Linked DNA regions of Homo sapiens: all the other regions are linked to region 3. Evidence: fine-mapped expression QTL. A gene starts in region 3. Each other region holds a variant in brackets. All regions are shown on one strand. Distances are between the middles of the regions. Region 1 overlaps CYRIB (CYFIP related Rac1 interactor B). Region 2 overlaps CYRIB (CYFIP related Rac1 interactor B). Region 3 holds the start of CYRIB (CYFIP related Rac1 interactor B).

Region 1 (6,144 bases), 58 kb after region 3:
CATCTGGCCGCAATTAAAAAATTTTTATTTAATCTTGATAATTGTGTTTGTTAAAGAAACTAGCTCAGAGAGTTTAGGAACTTGCCCGAGGTCATAGGCCTGGGCTCTGACAAGGCCAGAATTCAGTCTAGGTCTGCCAGTTTCAGAAGCCCCTTGCATTGCCTGGTATTTGATTTAGCTGCTGCATAGCCAGCAGACTGTACTAAATAATAGGGTTTTGCCATAGTTCTCTTCTGAGATCTTGATTTCATCAATATTTGTTTATCCACTCATTCATCTTCACTCATGTACTCAGGAAATATTCCATTGATTGCCTACCTGGGTACCAGAGATGGACTAGTGAATGATTCAAGCCCCTGCCCTCTTGGAGCTTACAGTCTGGCCAAGTTCCATATTACTTCTAAACGGTTAAATGACAGCCTCTAAGGTTGTACAGATCTATGATAATGGGAGTTGCACTAGTCCCACCCCTCTGTAAGGAGGCAACCAGCAAAACCAAGAAGCTGGATGGCCCAGTTTTATCTATGCTGTCTGCCTAGGATGCTGCTCCTAAAGGGACTGATGGATATTGAGGTATGGGAGGCTTAGGGTGTGCCTCACCTGTTCTCATCCTCCCAGGGCTGGCTCTGCTGGGTGATCTGGGCTGTGTCCCACCACTCTGTCCATATGATGACTCCCGTTTCTGAACCCCAGAGCAGAACCCATGGAATGAAGTAGGGTTAGCTGAACAGGGGGGAAATAAATATTTCTTGAATGAGACCTCCCCCTGGTTCTTTGACATGGCTCCTCCTGCCCAGGGAAATAGGTATTATTGTCTCCATTTTTCAGGGGAAGAAGCCGAGGCTTATTTAGAGTCACGATTTGAGCCCAGCCCTGTCTGATGGCTCCAAAATCATATGGGCTTCCTCTTGACCCTCCTTTGATCCAGGTAGGTCTGGGGAGTAGGGCTTTCAAAGCTTCTGAAATGTGAGGTGATTGGTAAGTTTCCTAGTTTCTTTCTTTCTTTCTTTCTTTTTTTTTTTTTTTTGAGACTGAGTCTTGCTCTGTCGCCCAGGCTGGAGTGCAGTGGCATGATCTTGGCTCACTGCAACCTCCGCCTCCCGGGTTCAAGCAATTCTCCTGCTTCAGCCTCCTGAGAGCTGGGGTTACAGGTGCGTGCCACCATGCCCAGCTAATTATTGTATTTTTAGTGGAGATGGGGGTTTCACCATGTTGGTCAGGCTGGTCTCGAACTCCTGACCTTGTGATCCGCCTGCCTCGGCCTCCCAAAGTGCTGGGATTACAGGCATGAGCCACCATGCCCAGCCTTTTTTTTTTTTTTTTTTTTCTTGAGACAGAGTCTCGCTCTGCCGCCCAGGCTGGAAAGCAGTGGCTTGATCTTGGCTCACTGCAACCTCTGCCTCCCAGGTTTAAGCGATCGATCTTGGCTCACTGCAACCTCTGCCTCCCAGGTTTAAGCGATTATCCTATTCTCCTGCCTCAGCCTCCTGAGTAACTGGGATTACAGGTGCCCGCCACCATGCCCAGCTAATTTTTGTATTTTTAGTAGAGGCGGGGTTTCGCCATGTTGGCCAGGCTGGTCTCAAACTCCTGACCTCAGGTGATCCACCCACCTTGGCCTCCCAAAGTGCTGGGATTACAGGTACGAGCTACTGCGCCTGATCGTGATTTGTTAAGTTTCATTTCATTCATTTATTTTAAAAAGTACTTAAGGAGGGCCTGTGTACAGAAACTCTGTTTGGCCCTGGGTGACCAAGATTGACCAGGGTTTCTGCTCCCAGGGAACTTAAAGTCTGAGTTAAATAATTGGAAGTGTGCAGTCTTTCATTCAGTGATTTATTCAGCCATGCACCAGGATGTATCAGTTAGATGCTTTGAATTGCAAGTGTCATAAATCCCAGTTCAAATGGGATAATTGATAAAAGCAGTTAAGTGGCTCACATAACCAAAAATTGTAGAGGTAGGATAGGTCAGGGCTCCGTCTTCCTTTCCTTAAGATCCTCCCAGCTCTGTACTTCTGTCTGTGGGCTCTTCTCAGATTGACTTCCTTCATAGTCGTGAGAGAAAAGAGCTACCATCTCTCCCTAGAGCCACTGAACAAACTTCCTGAACTTTGTCCTGATTGGATCATTTCAGGACATGCATTCATCTTTCAATTAATTGTGGTGGGAAATGGGATAATACTGATTGGCTTAGACCATTCAGGACCTGCCCTTGGAATTGGAGGTAAGGTGTGCCTGACTGAAGAATGCCTCTTGATGGGGAAGGAGTGGAGTAGATGTGGTAGGATTGGCGTACAAAGATGGGTAAAAGTATTATCTCTTATTAGACACTCACCTTTTTCTTATTTTTTAAAATATTAATAATAGAGATGGGGTCTTGCTAAGTTGCCCAGTCTGGTCTCAAACTCCTGGGTTCAAGCCATCCTCTCACCTCAGCCTCCTAAAGTGCTGGGATTACAGGCGTGAGTCATCACACTGGACCAGAAACTCACCTTCTCTAGTACGGTTCCTGAGAAGGGCATTCACCTAGTCTTAATTGAATGCTAGGTACTCTACATGTATTTTTCAGAGTAAATTCTCATAATGTCCTTGTCAAATAAATAAATATTTCCAGTTTGCAGATGAGGAAACAAGTTCAGAGAGCTGGAGTTGCTTGCAGGCAGTCACACACCACACACACCTAGGAAGCAAGT[AGTG/G]GGGTGTGGCTGTGGCTGTGGCTGGGGCTGCTACACTACTTCCTCTGCTTTTTTGTGATGGGGGTAGAGAAAATAAATTGTTAATAGAGACCTAAAAAGATTTGTTGAATGACTTTTCTACAATAAGCAGGGCCTTGGGAGTAGTTACTGCTTTTCATTTCAAGCTTTTATTAGAGAAATCCTGCCTGCCTTTGTTTTTTTTTTTTTTTTTTTTTTTTTGAGACAGAGTCTCTGTTGCCCAGGCTGGAGTGCAGTGGCATGATCTCGGCTCACTGCAATCTCTGCCTCCCAGATTCAAGCAATTCTCTGCCTCAGCCTCCCGAGTAGCTGGGATTACAGGCGCCCGCCATCACAGCCGGCTAATTTTTGTATCTTTAGTAGAGACGGGGGTTTCACCATCTTGGCCAGGCTGGTCTTGAACTCCTGACCTCGTGATCCACCCGCCTCAGCCTCCCAAAGTGTTGGGATTACAGGCGTGAGCCACTGCTCCCGGCCTCTTTTTTTTTTTTTTTTTTAAACCAGTGGTAGATGGGAGGAAAACTCTGCTTCCAGGTTCAGGTAAATAACAGAAATTGAATGAGCTCGAGAGAAAAAGCAGAACCATTGTCAACTGACAATGTCTCCAAAGAGATGATTGCATCAGATAATTTCACAGAAATGGTTTCTCTCCCCTTTTGACTTTTCTGCCCGAGGCTGCCATTAGGTTTTAAAGTAATAGAGTAGCTATTATGTAATTGTATACAATGCTTCCTTCCCTTGGGCCCATGTTAACTTGTGCCTTCAAAATACAGAATACAGTTTTTTTGGTAAAGAGTTTATGTAAAGCCAGTGTGATTCCTAAATTAAACTGCCAAAATGAGGGCAAACAAGCTGGGTTTTCTGGTTTTCTCCAGATTCTGCAGAGACGTAACATCCGACAGATCAGGAAGATGATTTGCCAAAAGTCATTTGTGTGCTGGTGCAGAATGTTTTCACACTGCTCTGCCCCCAGTGTGTGTGTACACACTTCACTGCCCAGTGGAAAGGCTCTTTTTTCTTCATAGGTCCCCCAACCTCACCTACTTCCATTCCACCCCAGCAGATACAATTTTATCCAGGGAGAAATTAATATTTTTTTTCCCCAGAGACAGAGTCTCACTCTTTGCCCAAGCTGGAGGGCAGTGGCACGATCTTGGCTCACTACAACCTCCATCTCTCGGGTTCAAGCGATTCTCATTCCTCAGCCTCCCAAGTAGTTGGGATTACAGGCGTGTGCCACTTGGCTAATTAGCTTGGCTAATTTTTTGTATTTTTTGTATTTTTTTTTTTTTTTTTGAGATGGAGTCTCGTTCTGTCGCCCAGGCTGGAGTGCAGTGGCGCGATCTCGGCTCACTGCAAGCTCTGCCTCCCAGGTTCACACCATTCTCCTGCCTCAGCCTCCTAAGTAGCTGGGACTATAGGCACCCGCCACTATCCCTGGCTAATTTCTTGTATTTTTAGTAGAGACGGGGTTTCACCATGTTAGCCAGGATGGTCTTGATCTCCTGACCTCATGATCCACCTGCTTCGGCCTCCCAAAGTGCTGGGATTACAGGCATGTGCCACCACGCCGGCCAATTTTTTTTATTTTTAGTAGAGATGGGGTTTCACCATGTTGGCCAGGCTGGTCTGGAACACCTGACTTCAAGTAATCCGCCCACCTCCACCTCCCAAAGTGCTGGGATTACAGGTGTGAGCCATCGTGCCGGCAATAAAAAAATTTGAAATTCAAATGGTGGTTGGTGACAAGTTGATAAATAAGGTTTTCAGCTTAGATGCTGTGCTTTTTGAGTTCTTGTGTCTGCTTTTCTTCTAGGTTATTACTGATGATAACTGATTTAACTATCCAAATTTCTACCACATTGTGTGCTGTGTTTTAAGTCTTGGGGACAGAGAATTGAGCAAAGTACAGCCTTAAGTACTGATAGCCTTTAGTGGCCTTCTTCTAACCAGATTTCCCCTAAGTCTGTCCACATTGGTGTCATCTTTGGGTGCTGATTTACTCTGGGCCAGGCAAACTTTACCTGGACTTGGGGAAAGGTATGAAGTAGAAGAAAATAGAACATGAGAAAGGTCTGAGGATAAAATGCAGAGGCTTAGGCCATGCACAGTGGCTCATGCCTGTAATCTCAGCATTTAGGGAGGCTGTGGTGGGAGGATTGCTTGAGCCCAGGAGTTTGAGGTCAGTCCTAGCAACACAGCAAGACCCTGTGTCTACACACACAAAAAGAAAATAGAAAAGAAAAGAACAAAAATCAGCCAGGCACAGTCGTGTGTGTCTGTAGTCCCAGCTACTTGGGAGTCTGAGGTGGGAGGATCACTGGAGCCCTGGAGGTCAAGGCTGCAGTGAACCATGGTCATGCTACTGCACTCCAGCCTGGGTGACAGAGCAAGAGCCAAGAAAGAAAGAAAGAAAGAGAGGCTGGGGGGAGGGAGGGAGGGAGGAGGGAGGAAGGAAGGAAGGAAAAATAGGCTTAAATGTCAAGTAAAGACTGAAAAAGAAAAAAGAATAGGCTTAACTGTCAGGTAAAGACCAGAAAAACAGGGCTTCTGGGCTCATTGTGACCCTGCAGGGGTGATCAATTGGTTTTCATTAGGGATGAGATTCAGGGGCTCTGTTACCACAGCATAACCCAGCTCACCCTAAGTGATATAACCACTACTGTCATACAGGGAGCATGATTCATGGAACTTGGGAGCAGGTGTGTGTGTGTGTGTGTGTGTGCAAACACAAAGACATGTATGTGTATATATGAATCTTGCTGCCTCTTGAGGCTGGTTTCCAAACTTGTCTACACTTTGGAATCACCTGGCAATCTTTTAAAATCCCAAGCCTAAGGTCATACACTAGATGAATTACTTCATAGACTCTAGGGGTGGGACACAAGCATTAGTTTTTTTAAGCTCTCCAGATGATTCTAATGTTCAGGACAAGTTAAGTTCAGGAATCACTGCTCTGTGAGAATTATAATATCATTATTATTATTATTTGAGAAGGGGTGGGGATAATGGAAGTGACAATGGTAGTAGCCATCATTATTATTTACTGGCTGCTACCTATATGCCAGGCAGCATTCTCGATGTTTTACAAAGATAATCACTTCTGATTCTCACTGCGCTCCACGAGACAGTTTTGTAGGTGGTTGGAGAAGGAAAGGAGAGGGTCATATCTTTCAAACTTATGTAAGCCACAGAGTTGGCTAACCAGATTGTCAGGTGAAAATGAGAAAGATGGGGCTGCTGGGCTTACCTTCTTGACCCCAGAGGGACCATTGTGGTCATCCTTAGGGCTGAGATTTAGGTGTTCTTTGTTACCACAGCATAACCTATCCCATCCCGATGGATGCAACCATCCTTTTAATAACCACAGTGGATTCAGGCATTGGTGCTTAGAAGCACATTTTGCAACATTATAAATTGAGGGTGAG
Region 2 (6,144 bases), 120 kb after region 3:
ACTACAAATTGAATGTCAGGTCTGTTAAAGTTTGATTAACAGCAAAAACAGCATTAACAATCATTTCAAAGGGGACATAGTTGGGAACGTGACTTTCGTTTTTGTTTCCTTTGTTGTGGTGGTACTTAATTCTTTTGATGTCATCTGGCCCTGATGCCATGTTTTAAAGAGGTTCTCAAAAGCTGCACTGCCAGAGTCAGTGGATTAAGCCCCACATTTTTTTTTTACTCATTTGCTGCTTTGTCCAAGTCACCAGGTTGCTCTAGTCTTTATTTCCCTTCTTTCATAAAATTAGGGAGTTGAGCTCGTTCAAGTCATTTCACAAACCCTTTAGTCTGGGCTCAGATTTTCTATCCTTTGTCATCCCCTTTCTCCGTTTTTTTAGCACCTTTAGACATGTGGTAGTGAAAGTCTTCAGAATCAAAATGGAGTTACTAATGTTAAGGAAACCCAGGGAAGCTGTGTACAGAGCCAGGGAAGGCTGTGAAGAGAGTGTTCTCACACTTGTATGCCTGATAATGAAAGAGACTACAAAGACCATATCCTTACACAAAGGCCATCACCACCTTACACAAAATAGTACTTCTGCAAGGACATCTGCCCAGCAACTGCCTGTTCAGCCTCCAACTGGTGTCACCCTTGTTATTGATCTTTGTAGCTAAGGATATTTATTTCAAAACTATTATATAACCCTTGTTTCTCCTTTAAAAACCTTTGTCTTCCTTTACCTCCCTGAATATGTATGGCATAGTTTACTATGTTATGCATATTCCTATTGCAATGCTCTGTTCTGAAATAAACATCTTTTCTTTGTGATCCTCTCTCTGTTATGTAGGTTGACAGTAAAAATTCAAAGTGGTTTAGTGATTTGAACTTTGCTTTATATAAACATTTCCTTTTTATATGCTTTGTGAAACTAGAAGGTGTAATAATTAATGGCATACTTAGTTAAAAAAATTTATATGATATGCACATACTGCATTTGGTCCTAATAATGATCTCAACATTTCATTTACAATTAGCTTATTCCACAGTATTAAGAAAACATAGGTTTCTTCCTATTTTATATAAATCAGCCTTTAAAATAAAACAAACCAGCTTTTGCAAAATTATTTACAAAGATACCTGGCCTTGTCATTTGTCATTTGAAAATAATTATGGGACCTGCTTTTTAAATTTACTGAGGGGGATCTCTTTCTGCTGTAAAATTTTACTTCTTTCTGAAGTAAAATTGTATTTTAAAAAATGATATAATGAAAGGCCAGGTGCAGTGGTTCATGCCTGTAAATCCCAGTACTTTGGAGGCTGAGGCAGGTAGATCACCTGAGGTGTCAGGAGTTCGAGATCAGCCTGGTCAACATGGCAAAACCCCGTCTCTACTAAAAATACAAAAATTAGCCGGGCCTGGTGGCACATGCCTGTAATCCCAGCTACTTGGGAGGGTGAGGCACGAGAATCACTTGACTTGGGAGGCAGAGGTTGCAGTGAGCCGAGATCCTGCCACTGCACTCCCCAGCCTGGGCGACAGAGTGAGACTCCAAAAAAAAAAAGAAAGGCAAAGTAAAACTGTATATATTCAGTTATAATTACCACCTCCTTGGCAACATCAGAATGTAAATGAATGACCTCTGCTGGACTCTTTTTAGCACTGTAAGAGATACTGATTTATTAATGTAGAAAATTATTCAAGTACATATCTTTAAAATTCTATTACCAAGAGAAGAAAAATATGTTTTTGTATTCTGTTTGGTTATGATAAGCCTGGAGGAGATAGATTTAAGAGAATGATTTTAATTTTAGTTCAGTTAAATTAAGTTCAAGAACCAGGAAAACATTTGTGCCTTTTGTAATTTCACTTGTATTAAATTCCGTTAGTGTACAAGGCTCAAACAGAAAGACCTGACAAACTGTTGAAAACTATTTAAGAACATTTCTTAACATCCGTCTTCTTTTCCTAATAAGCATACATTTTTCTTTTTTAAATTTATTTTACTTTTAGCTTCTGCATCCAACCATCCATAACATACTTACTGCTTTTCTTAAAAAAGTTTTTTCCAGTGAAATTTTTTTTCTAACTTAGAAGTTTTAGTACTAATTTCTTTTAGGAACACTTGAAATTTTTCTTAATTGTTTTTGGATGAATTGTATGTGCCACAATAAACGTTCATTTATTAACTTAACATTAGCACTAACGTCATGCAAAGCCCTCTGCAGGGTGCTTTGGAAACAGAAGTTAAGATCACAGGGAAAAAAGTTTCCACTGCCCTTGGTTCTTTAGCCTATAATGTTTAACAAGGTCTTTGTGATGAGTATTCCTTTAAAAAAAAAAACAAAAAAACTTAAAAAAAATTTTTAGATTGGGGCCAGGCACAGTGGCTCACGCCTGTAATTCCAGCACCTTGAGAGGCCGAGGCGGGTGGATCACCTGGTCAGGAGCTCAAGACCAGCCTGGCCAACATGGCGAAACCCCATCTCTACTAAAAATACAAAAATCAGCCGGGCGTATTGGCAAATGCCTGTAATTCCAGCTACTTGGGAGGCTGAGGCAGGAGAATCACTTGAACCCAGGAGGCAGAGATTGCAGTGAGCCAAGATTGCTCCACTGCACTCCAGCCTGGGTGACAAGAGTGAAACTCTGTCTCAAAAAATAAAAATTTAGATGGAGTTTCGCTATGTTGCCCAGGCTGGTCTCGAACTCCTGGGCTCAAGCAATCCTCCCACCTCCACCTCCCAAACTGCTGGGATTATAGGCATTAGCCGCCCACCATGCCTCTCCCTACCTAGAAAATCACTTATAAACTCTACTCAGAAGCTAAATTCTTGGCTGGCATTACTAGATAGGAGATGTCTTGTTTGTACCTTTGCAAATGTGAACATACATAATCTGATGGGTAACTTTATTTTGACCTCATTTGACTGTTGTTTTAAGATACTTCATATATTTAATGGTTTGTTAAGTAGCACAGGGATTGTGTTTAGTTTATTTCTAGGAGGCCAAAGAGAATTTAAACCAAGGAGGAGATGTTAACAAATGGGTGAATTTCAGTTTAATACAAGGATTGTATGGTTTTCGAGGGTAGAATTCATGTCTTAATTGTGCTTATTCAGTCATTGTCTTAAGTTTCTACAAATTTTTCTAAAAATTGACCAAAGTCTAAAATTTAAGTCATGTAGAGTATTTAAGCAGTGGTGAGATGGCTACTTGGTGTGGATATGTTGTAGAATAGATTCATACTAAGGTTAAATAGTCAAGGGTGAGTCTTCCATTTGACCGTGAATGGTCCCTTCCTGGTCTGAGATTCTCTTATTTATTGGTAATGGGATATAAAGCCATTCTGCCTGTTGTCTTTCACTCTTCACAGTGACTATAGTGTTGAGAAGAGCCCCTAGTCAACCCCAGAAATTAAGGGATACTTAACTTCAGAGAATACCTTATCTTTTAACTCAAATTATGAGAGAAAGCAGAACAATTTTTAAGAATCTCTTATCCATTTCAGTCATAGTGAGGTGACTAGGAATGACACTTT[A/G]CTTCTATATGCCAAATTCTGGCAGATTTCCTTTCAATTGTAGGCCTCCTGTTTCCTGCGCTTTCTCCTTTTCCTGTGAAATCTCCGAGGAGAAGAAAGAATGATGGACAGTTTATCCTTTCACTGCCACAAGGCCTGTTTACTTGGCAGTAGGTCCTTAAGTTCCTTGCTTTTTTGCTGCTGTTTGGTGACTGGAAGAGGCACCAGAGACTCTCACTCTGGGGAGGTGGGTGGCATGTTTATAAGTAATGGATGAGAATGTCTCTGTAGCCCTTAGTTATTCTCTGTGCAAAAAGCAGAAAACTAAAATTGCTACTTCTGAAGATGACTGTTGGTCATCAGGATTTTTAAGGATTTGAACTCTCATTGCGATAATGCATAAGAACATGGGAAACACCATTGAAGATTAGCTCAGAGGTGGTAAAGAGTATTGTGGGAAAATATCATTGCTGTCCAGGCCAGCTTTAATGTTTTAGCAGTAAACCTTTGCCTGTTAACCTTGTCCTTGATTTTCTTGATGTTTATAGATCTTGTATTTGAATTATCCCTTCGTAGGTAAGACTAAGGGATTATTCCATAAACTTAGTCCCTAATTTATTAAGTTGCACTTTGTTTAATTTGACCTAAACCTACTCTTTTTATGGGATGCCCTTAGTTTAGGTATTCTCTTTTTGGATAAATAAGCTGCTTTTTACTTGAATTGTTCATTTATTAATTTGACAAATATTTATTGAGTACTGGCTGTGTGACAGAATGTCTGTTAGGCTGGAGTTTCAAAAATGAAACAGATGTAGACTTCTTAGATGTTTGGAAGAACTTTCCTATAAAACTCACTGAGTAATTGACACATTGTATTGTTTATAAATGGTTCTAAATAATAGAAAAATCTATGTATAAAAATAGGCTTGACAGCAAAACCAGACAGGAACAGAGAAAAAAATTACAGGTCAGTCTTACAAAATAATCCAAGGTGAAATGTTAGCAAAACCAAATCTAGGAATATATATTTTTAAATGATCAAATAAACCAGGTGCAGTGGCTCACGCCTGTAATTGTAGTTGTAGCACCTTGGGAGGCTGAGGTAGGAGGTTTCCTTGAGCCTAGGAGTTCAAGACCAGCCTGGGCAACAGAGCAAGACCGTGTTTCAAATTTATTCATTCACCCTCATTCATTTATTCATAAATAAATAAATACATAAATAAATAACCAACCAAGCAGACTTGATCTCAGGAATGCAAGAATGGTTTAGCAACAGAAAATGAATTTATGTAATCTGTCATATTCATAGATTAAATGACAAAATGATTGAAATTATAGAGATGGCAATTATATATTTAATGCAAAATCAAATCAAAATCCCATCAGAATTTTTTTGTAGAATTTGACAATCACATGAGTGAATAAAAGGGCAAGAATAAGGCAATTTTGAAGAATTATTATTTAAACAGTAAGCACAGACCATGAAGAAAAATGAAAAACTGGACTGTTATGACAAACAACACCATAAACAAAGTTAAGATATGTTAGATCCTAGAAGAAAGTATCTGCCTTGTATATAAGCATTAAAAGGGTGGTATCCAGAATTTCTAAAGCTGCCAGGTATGATGGCTCATGCCTGTAATCCCAGCACTTTAGGAGGCCAGGGTGGGGGAGGATTGCTTAAGGCCATGAATTTGAGACCAGTCTGGGCAACACGATGAGATCCTGTCTCTACAAAAAAAAACAAACAACAACAGTATTCCCCCTGCCCCTGCCCCCACCCCCACCCCCACCCCCACCCCAACCCCGCCGACACACACTAGCATGATGACACGGGCATGTAGTCCCAGCTACTCAGGAGGCAGAGGTGGGAGGATCGATTGAGCCAGGGTGGTTGAGGTCGCAGTGAGCCGTGAGCACACCACTACACTCCAGCCTGGGCGAAAAAGAGCAAGACCCTGTCTCAAAAAAATAAATTAATTAAAAAAATATATATATATATATATTTCTAACACTCAGTTTGAAAAAAGAGTGGTATGACAGTTGAAGTTAAGTTAGGAAAACTTACCACTCTGGATATTTCAAACAATTTAATATAGAAGATTGGTTACAAAGATACTAGAAAAGCTGGAAGAGCAAAAGGAACAAGGGAGAGAACAGAGTAGCAAAAATAAAATAAGAAATTATGATGCTGCTTTTACCAGAGACAAGCTGCTGCCACCACTAGGCTGGAACCTACAGGCTGCACCTGTCCCTAATTAGGGTATTGGATACTATTCACACTGCTCCTACAACAACTGCTAGCCTGTTCTAATCAGTAACTTCTCTCTTCCTCCTGTCTTCTCACCCTCCAGTTCCTCCTAACAGGAACCCAGCTGGCAAAGATGTCTGGGAAATGTCATTTGCATTCTCAGCCCCAGCAGTGCAGAAAGGTAGGAGTGGGGCTGCGAAACAACAGAAAAATAAGGACCATAGGTGACAAAGGAAATGCATATACACTTCACAGATGGCCCATAAACATATAATACAAAGAGGTGCACATTTTTACTGATAAGAAAATACAAATTTAAACATCAGTGAGACATTTCAGACTCTAAAAATTAAACTTGAGGTTTTGGAGGACAGGAAATAGGAAATC
Region 3 (6,144 bases):
GAGGTTAAATGACTTGCCCAGAATTGCACAGCTGAAAATGGCAGGCAGGCTTTCCCAACTCCAAAGACAGTGCTGTCTATAGGATGCTGGACTTCTGCCTACCATTGTCAGGGTTGACATCCCGGGGAAACAGAGCAGTCACTACAGAATTGCCAGAGGTTTCCCCGGGTATTATTCCCAGGTTCCCAATGGCTTGAATTGGTCAAACCTATCAGGATCAGAGTGAGCCTAGGCTCATGCTCTCAGCCTCACTGTATCCAGTGAATGGAGACTTTCTCCTCTGAGACACACACATCAGAGTTAGACTCTCCATCCCACATATTTCAGAATTCAGTAGAGTGCAGGCTAGCAGGCATCCAAGCCCTGCCCTCACCTTCATCTATTCTTCCCTGCTTCCTGGACCCCCAAATTTGCATTCCATGTTACGCTCACATCAAACTATTTACAGATCCCAAGCTTGCCTGAAAGTTCCTTACCTCATGCCTTTAACAATTATTATGGTAGGCCAGGCGCAGTGGCTTGAGCCTGTAATCCTAGCACTTTGGGAGGCTGAGGCGGGTGGAACGCTTGAGTTCAGGAGTTTGAGACCAGCCTGGGCAACATGGCAAAATCTTGTCATCACAGAACAATACAAAAATTAGGCTGGGTGCGGTTTTTGGGAGGCTGAGGTGGGCGGACCGCCTGAGGTTGGGAGTTCGAGACCAGCCTGGCCAACATGGTGAAACTCCACCTCTACTAAAAATACAAAAATGAGCCAGGCGTGGTGGTGCACATCTGTAATCCCAGCTACTTGGGAGGCTGAGGCATGAGAATTGCTTGAACCCGGGAGGCAGAGATTGCAGTGAGCCAAAATTGCGCCACCGCATTCCAGCCTGGGTGACAAAGTGAGACCCTGCCTCAAAAAAAAAAAAAAAAAAAAAGGTAAATTGTAACAGTTATGATAATAGTAACAACAATGGTGATTGCTTTCTCCTGGGTCCTATCCATATTAGGTTCTATATATTCGCTATTTCATTTAACCCTCACCATAACCTAACGAAGTCATTATTATCCATTCCATTTCACAGATGAACAAACTGAGGCTGAGAGTGGCTAAGTGCTTGGGCTCTGGAGTCAGACAATCTAGGTACATACCCAGCTCCACCGCTGTCTAATCTGTGTGATCTTGGGCAAATCTCATCTCTCTTCCAGCTGCAGTATCTTAATGCATGACACTGGGCCATGATAAACCTGCTTCATGGGCCTGCACACACTTGGCACCTGCTTAGTACTTTATAAATGTTCAGAATTGTTAATGCTCATTTTATAAGCGGCTCAGCTCTGCCTGCTTCCAAACCCTTTTCCTGCTTCTCCTCAAGGTCATAGTTCAGGACCCAGTGTTTCCCCACCTACTTCTCAGCCCCCACAGCAAGGTGGACATTAGTTCCCTTCCTTTAGGAATGAAGGCACTGGCGCTCGGGTAAGCTTAGAGAGCAGTCCAGGGAGTACTGCTGAAATGGCACCATCTCAGGGTCCCCAGCTCCGAGAACTGGGCCTGGCCAAGAGAAGGCGCAAGGCACCTTTGTTAAAGAATTGGCGGGCTGGGTGTGGTGGTTTATGCCTGTAATCCCCACACTTTGGGAGGCGGAGGCAGGGAGGATCCCTTGAGCCCAGGAGAAACAGGCCAGCCAGGGCAACACAGGGAGACCCACCTCTACAAAAATCTATAAAAATTAGCTGAGCATGGTGGTGCATACCCGTGGTCCCAGCAACTCGGGAGGCTGAGGTGGGAGGATCGCTTGAGCCCAGGAATTTGAGGCTGCAGTGAGCTATCGCATCACTGCGCTACCTAGCCTGGGAAACAGAGCAAAATCCTGTCTTAGACAAAAAAAAAAAAAAGAAAGAAAAAAGAAAAGAAATGGAACAACTGGCTCCTAATCAGGTAACTCAGCACTGAGTATGATGTGAGCACACTCCAACCCCCCTATAGCTGGAGGTGGAGGTGGAAAGACAATGGAAGCCTTTGATGTAACCCTTTTGATACCCTGCTAGAGGACAGCAGAAAGATACTTGAGAGAATGTTGTCTATCTTCCCGAGAAATTTCTGGTTGAATGTCAAGATAATGATAGGATGGGCTTCTGGGCCAGGGGAGCAAGGCAGAGGGAAGGAGAGTATCAGTTTCCTAGGCATGTCCTGTTACAGGGAGAAAAACACAGTATTTTCCATTCTAGATCAGGGGAAAGATGAGGTCTCCCATAATACCTGAAACTGGAATTATGGCGAGGAGCTTTTTATGTGGGAATTTCTGTACTAAATTTAAAGTCCTTGGAGAACCGCTTAGGGTAGCACCGACAGCCCGCACCGTCCCCTCACCCCGCTTTATTTTTCCTCTGGCACAGCACTTAGCACCATAGGACCCATCAGATATTTACGGCCTGTCCCCGCTGCCCCTCCCGGGCAGGGATTTTGTTTTGGTTCGCAGCTGCAGCTCCAGGGCCTAGAACAGCCCGGGCACTTAGTAGGCCCAGTAAGTATCTGCGGGAGGGCTGAATGGGTGCGTGGACAGCATTCCTCTCACTGACCCCGCTGCGAGGTGAGCCAGGCAGGGGCTGTCACCATTCCTGAAGTCCAGGTGAGGGGGAAGCGACCCAGGGATGGGAACCTGGCCGGCCTGAAGGTCTGGAGACCGGGGTTCGAGCCCAAGCCCTGCCTGACAGGCAGTGACCTTGGGGGTCACTCTTGCGCCTCTCGGAGCCGGGTTTCCTCCTCGCACAATGAGGGCGATGACCCCCAATCGCAGCGCGCCCCGCGGTGACTTGCCCAAGGTCACCACCGTCCCGGGCCCGTGGCGCCCCGGCTCGGGAGGACACGGGCCAGGCGGGCGCGGGGTTCTGGGGTGGGGGCCGGCGCGGGGCGGTCCCGGGGCGCGGCGCGCGCTGACGCCGGGGCCCCGCGATGCGGCGGGGACTGGGCGCGGGGGGAGGCGCGTCGCGAGGCGAGCGTCCTCCTTTTGTGCGAGCGCCGGCGGCTCGGCTTCTCGAAGGTAAACAGCGCTTCCTCTTCCTCCTCGCCGCGCCTCTTCCTTTTATAGTTATTTCTCGCCTGGCACTCGCCCGGGCTGCTGCTGCTGCTGCTGCTGCCGCCGCGGCGGGGGCAGCTCGCAAACCTGTGGCGGTGACGTGAGCCCCGCCAACCCGGAAACGGCGGCGGCGGCGGCACCGGAGGCTCCGAGGCTCCTGCGCTCCCGCGCCGCGCTCCCCTCGCCCGCCCGGGCCGCCAGGTACGTGCCGGGGCTCTGAAGGCGCCGCCGCCCGGCCGGCCCGCGCGCGCGCCCCTGGATCCGATTTGCCCCCGGAGAGGGCGCGGGGTGCGGGGCGCGCGCGTGATGGGTGCGGGGAGAGGCGGAGGTACCATCCGGGCCGCCGGGCCGGGCGCTGCGGCGGGTGGACAGGGGGCGCCGCCGTGGTGGGGGCGTCCGGGCCGGCGGGCGCGGGGGTCCCGGGGGAGGCGCCTCGAGTGCGCGGGGGGCGGCGGGCGGACGCGAGGGGAGCGCGCAGCGGGGCCGCCGCCCGGGTCCACCCAGCTGCGGAGCCGGCGCCTTGTGCGCCTCGAGGCAGGGGGCGCTCGGGTCGGGGTGGCTGGTCCCTGGCAGACCCTTCCTGCGAGCCGGGTGTCGGTGCGGGGACTGACCCCGGGAGCAGCGCTGGCCCCCGGCCACCTCCCATCAGGGGCTTGGAAGACCAGTCGCATTGGATTTGAGGAACTAGAGGGGGTGAACAAAATCTCCACTGGCCTCAAGACTTCCTCCTGGGGTAGCCACCCGCCTGTGTTTAAAGAGCACTTCCTCTTCGCCTTTTATCTTTTCATTATCTTTCTTTTTAAATGGAAGTTCAGTGTTAGCGGGTGGGTGCCCTTGCAGCCTGCAGGGCTTTCCTGGGGCTGTGTACACACACACTGGGGTTGGGAAAAACCTGTGTGTCCTTTGAAACGTGTGTCCTGTGTCAGGAGTGGAACGAAGGAGGAATCGAGGTCTTACCATGCTGGAGCTACTTGGAGTGTGCCTTTGCTACCCACCCTGCTGCAAGAGGTGGAGGGGTGCGGAGGGATAGAGCTGGGGCTGCGGGGGAGTGTCACATGCACTTTGCAGCTATGTTTAATTCCTGGCCCTGCCGCTTACTAGCTGTGTGACCTTGGGCAAGTCGCTTACCCTCTCTGAGTCTTAGGGTCCCGTCTGTGAAATGGGCTGCTGCGAGTGGGGCCTTGAGAAAACGAGCGTAGATTTCCTGGCCTGCAGGGGGCGCAGTGATAGAAAGTGTCATTGCCAGTCACCTTGAATTTCTGCATCCCCAGCACCTAGAAAGGGTGCGTTGAAGCACGTGGGAAGCACCCCATAGATAATTGTGAGATGAACGAGTGGGTGGTGAATTTTGAGAGGTGAGTCGGTGTGCTTCCACATTTTGGCTTCCTTGCCCTGTAACATCCATCCAGGATCTCCAGGGAGCAATTTTGCTATCTGGGTTGGATGGACTCCTCCCCTCTCTGAGGAAGACCATCTTGTGAAAATACTGACTCCCTTGTGAAAAAGGGCTTAAACTCTGACTTTGAGACTCTCCCATTCTTGGAAGATTGCACTGGGGGAAAAATAAAAAGAAGGCGTCATTTTGATTGCCACCGCCAGGTGACTGGCTGAGGCCAACAGCCAAGACTGAGCCAGGGCTGACGTCTGGGATGGTTTCCCAGGCCTGGGGTTCCTGTAATGTGGGGGAAGCCCGGAAGAGGTGACTTTTCTACCTTGGTCGGCATGCAGAAGTGGTCAGCTGGCCTGAGTTTTCTTCCTGAGGAGGCACATTGGAATTTGCACTCTAGATCCTTGCTGGGCTCACAGCACGGAGAAGGGCAGAGTGTGTGATGCAGGAGGCTGAAGTGGGTTCCAGCACAGGGAGACTTGGAAATGGTTTTCAGATAAAGGCCAATATATGTTTCTGCCCTTCACTTTGGGAGATTTTCAAGTAATTTTGCTGTCTCTGACAGCCACCCCTTCTCCTTTCTCAGCTCCCAAAGTCTTCTGTGTGCCTCTCTTAGGATCCTTAGCTATGTGGGTCCCCCAACTCCCGACCCCCGTAAGTGCTACTATTATTTTTAAGAGACAGTGCAGACCCTTCTGTGCAGCAGCGTGCTGCAGTTTGAGCATGTGCAGATTCATTTTGTTTGTGTTTTGACAGGGTCTCACGCATTGCTGAGGTTGAAGTAGTGCAGAAGTAGCGTGATCATGTCTTACTGCAACCTTGACCTCTCAGGCTCAAGCCATCCTCCTACCTCAGCCTCCCAAGTAGCTGGGACCACGGGTGTGCACCACCATGCCCAACTAATTTTTTAATGTTTTGTAGAGATGGGGTCTCTCCATGTTGCCCGAACTCCTGGGCTCAAGGGATCCTCGCTGCCTTAGCCTCCCAAAGTGCTGGGATTACAGGTGTGAGCCACTGTGCCCGGCCCAGATTCATTTTTAATGACTGAACTGTGGAGTGGCCAGGGTTACCTGTAAAGGAGAGCTAGGGTTCTCGTTTTCCTGAGACTTAGAGAGAGTGCAGGACTTGGCCCAAGACCTTCAGTCAGGAAGGGGCAGATTGAGGGTCCTTGCCTAAGTCTTCAGCCTGCAGAGCTCACTTTTCTTCTTGCAGACGCTGAGTGGTCTTTGTGCTTCCTCTGGCACCTGACCTGCTGCCTGGCCCATGCAGGAAACAGTACGTGTCTTTTGACAGAATGGGCAGAAGAATGATGGGTTCCCCTTTGCTCTTTGAGGATGTACATTCTTTTTCCATCTCAAGGTCAGCGCACTGGCCTGCAGTTGACCTTGAAATGGTTGTCCCGTGGTTCCTCCCTATGTGGAATCCTGGTCCCTGACAGCTCTTATATCAGGATCCAGAGACCCATGCACACGAAGAACAGGAAGGACGCCCGAGGGACGCGGGTGCCAGGAGGTTGTGGCCTCACCCGTGCTCAGCATTACTGCCATCTCGTTAATTGAAGAGACCACGATTCATGTGGCTTTGGCGGTCTGGGACTTGGCTGTCTTCAGCAAAATCGTCCACCACTGAGCATTGTAAAGGAAGTGTTGTATAGCTGAAAATTCAGATTTTAAGTATGAATTTTATCAGACACACCTT

Evidence for each region. PIP is the estimated chance that this variant, and not a neighbour inherited with it, causes the effect.
Region 1: its variant is the best candidate, but not a certain one, in a credible set for the expression of CYRIB in whole blood (TOPMed, PIP 0.86).
Region 2: its variant is the best candidate, but not a certain one, in a credible set for the expression of CYRIB in whole blood (TOPMed, PIP 0.73).

What each region holds. Positions count from the first base shown.
Region 1 is chr8:129,955,833-129,961,976 of GRCh38, reverse strand. All of the region lies in intron 2 of CYRIB (CYFIP related Rac1 interactor B), which reads left to right. Among named protein-coding and RNA genes, the nearest start is that of MIR5194, 50 kb to the left of the region's middle. RefSeq lists an enhancer at 2,356-2,856. The variant AGTG/G (reference allele first, on the strand shown) is at 2,696.
Region 2 is chr8:129,894,281-129,900,424 of GRCh38, reverse strand. All of the region lies in intron 4 of CYRIB (CYFIP related Rac1 interactor B), which reads left to right. Among named protein-coding and RNA genes, the nearest start is that of GSDMC, 110 kb to the right of the region's middle. RefSeq lists a silencer at 516-716. The variant A/G (reference allele first, on the strand shown) is at 3,528.
Region 3 is chr8:130,013,486-130,019,629 of GRCh38, reverse strand. CYRIB (CYFIP related Rac1 interactor B) reads left to right here and starts at 3,070. Exons shown (of 14, transcript NM_001353258.2): 1 at 3,070-3,260. RefSeq lists silencers at 2,858-2,917, 2,968-3,037, 3,128-3,317, 3,508-3,777.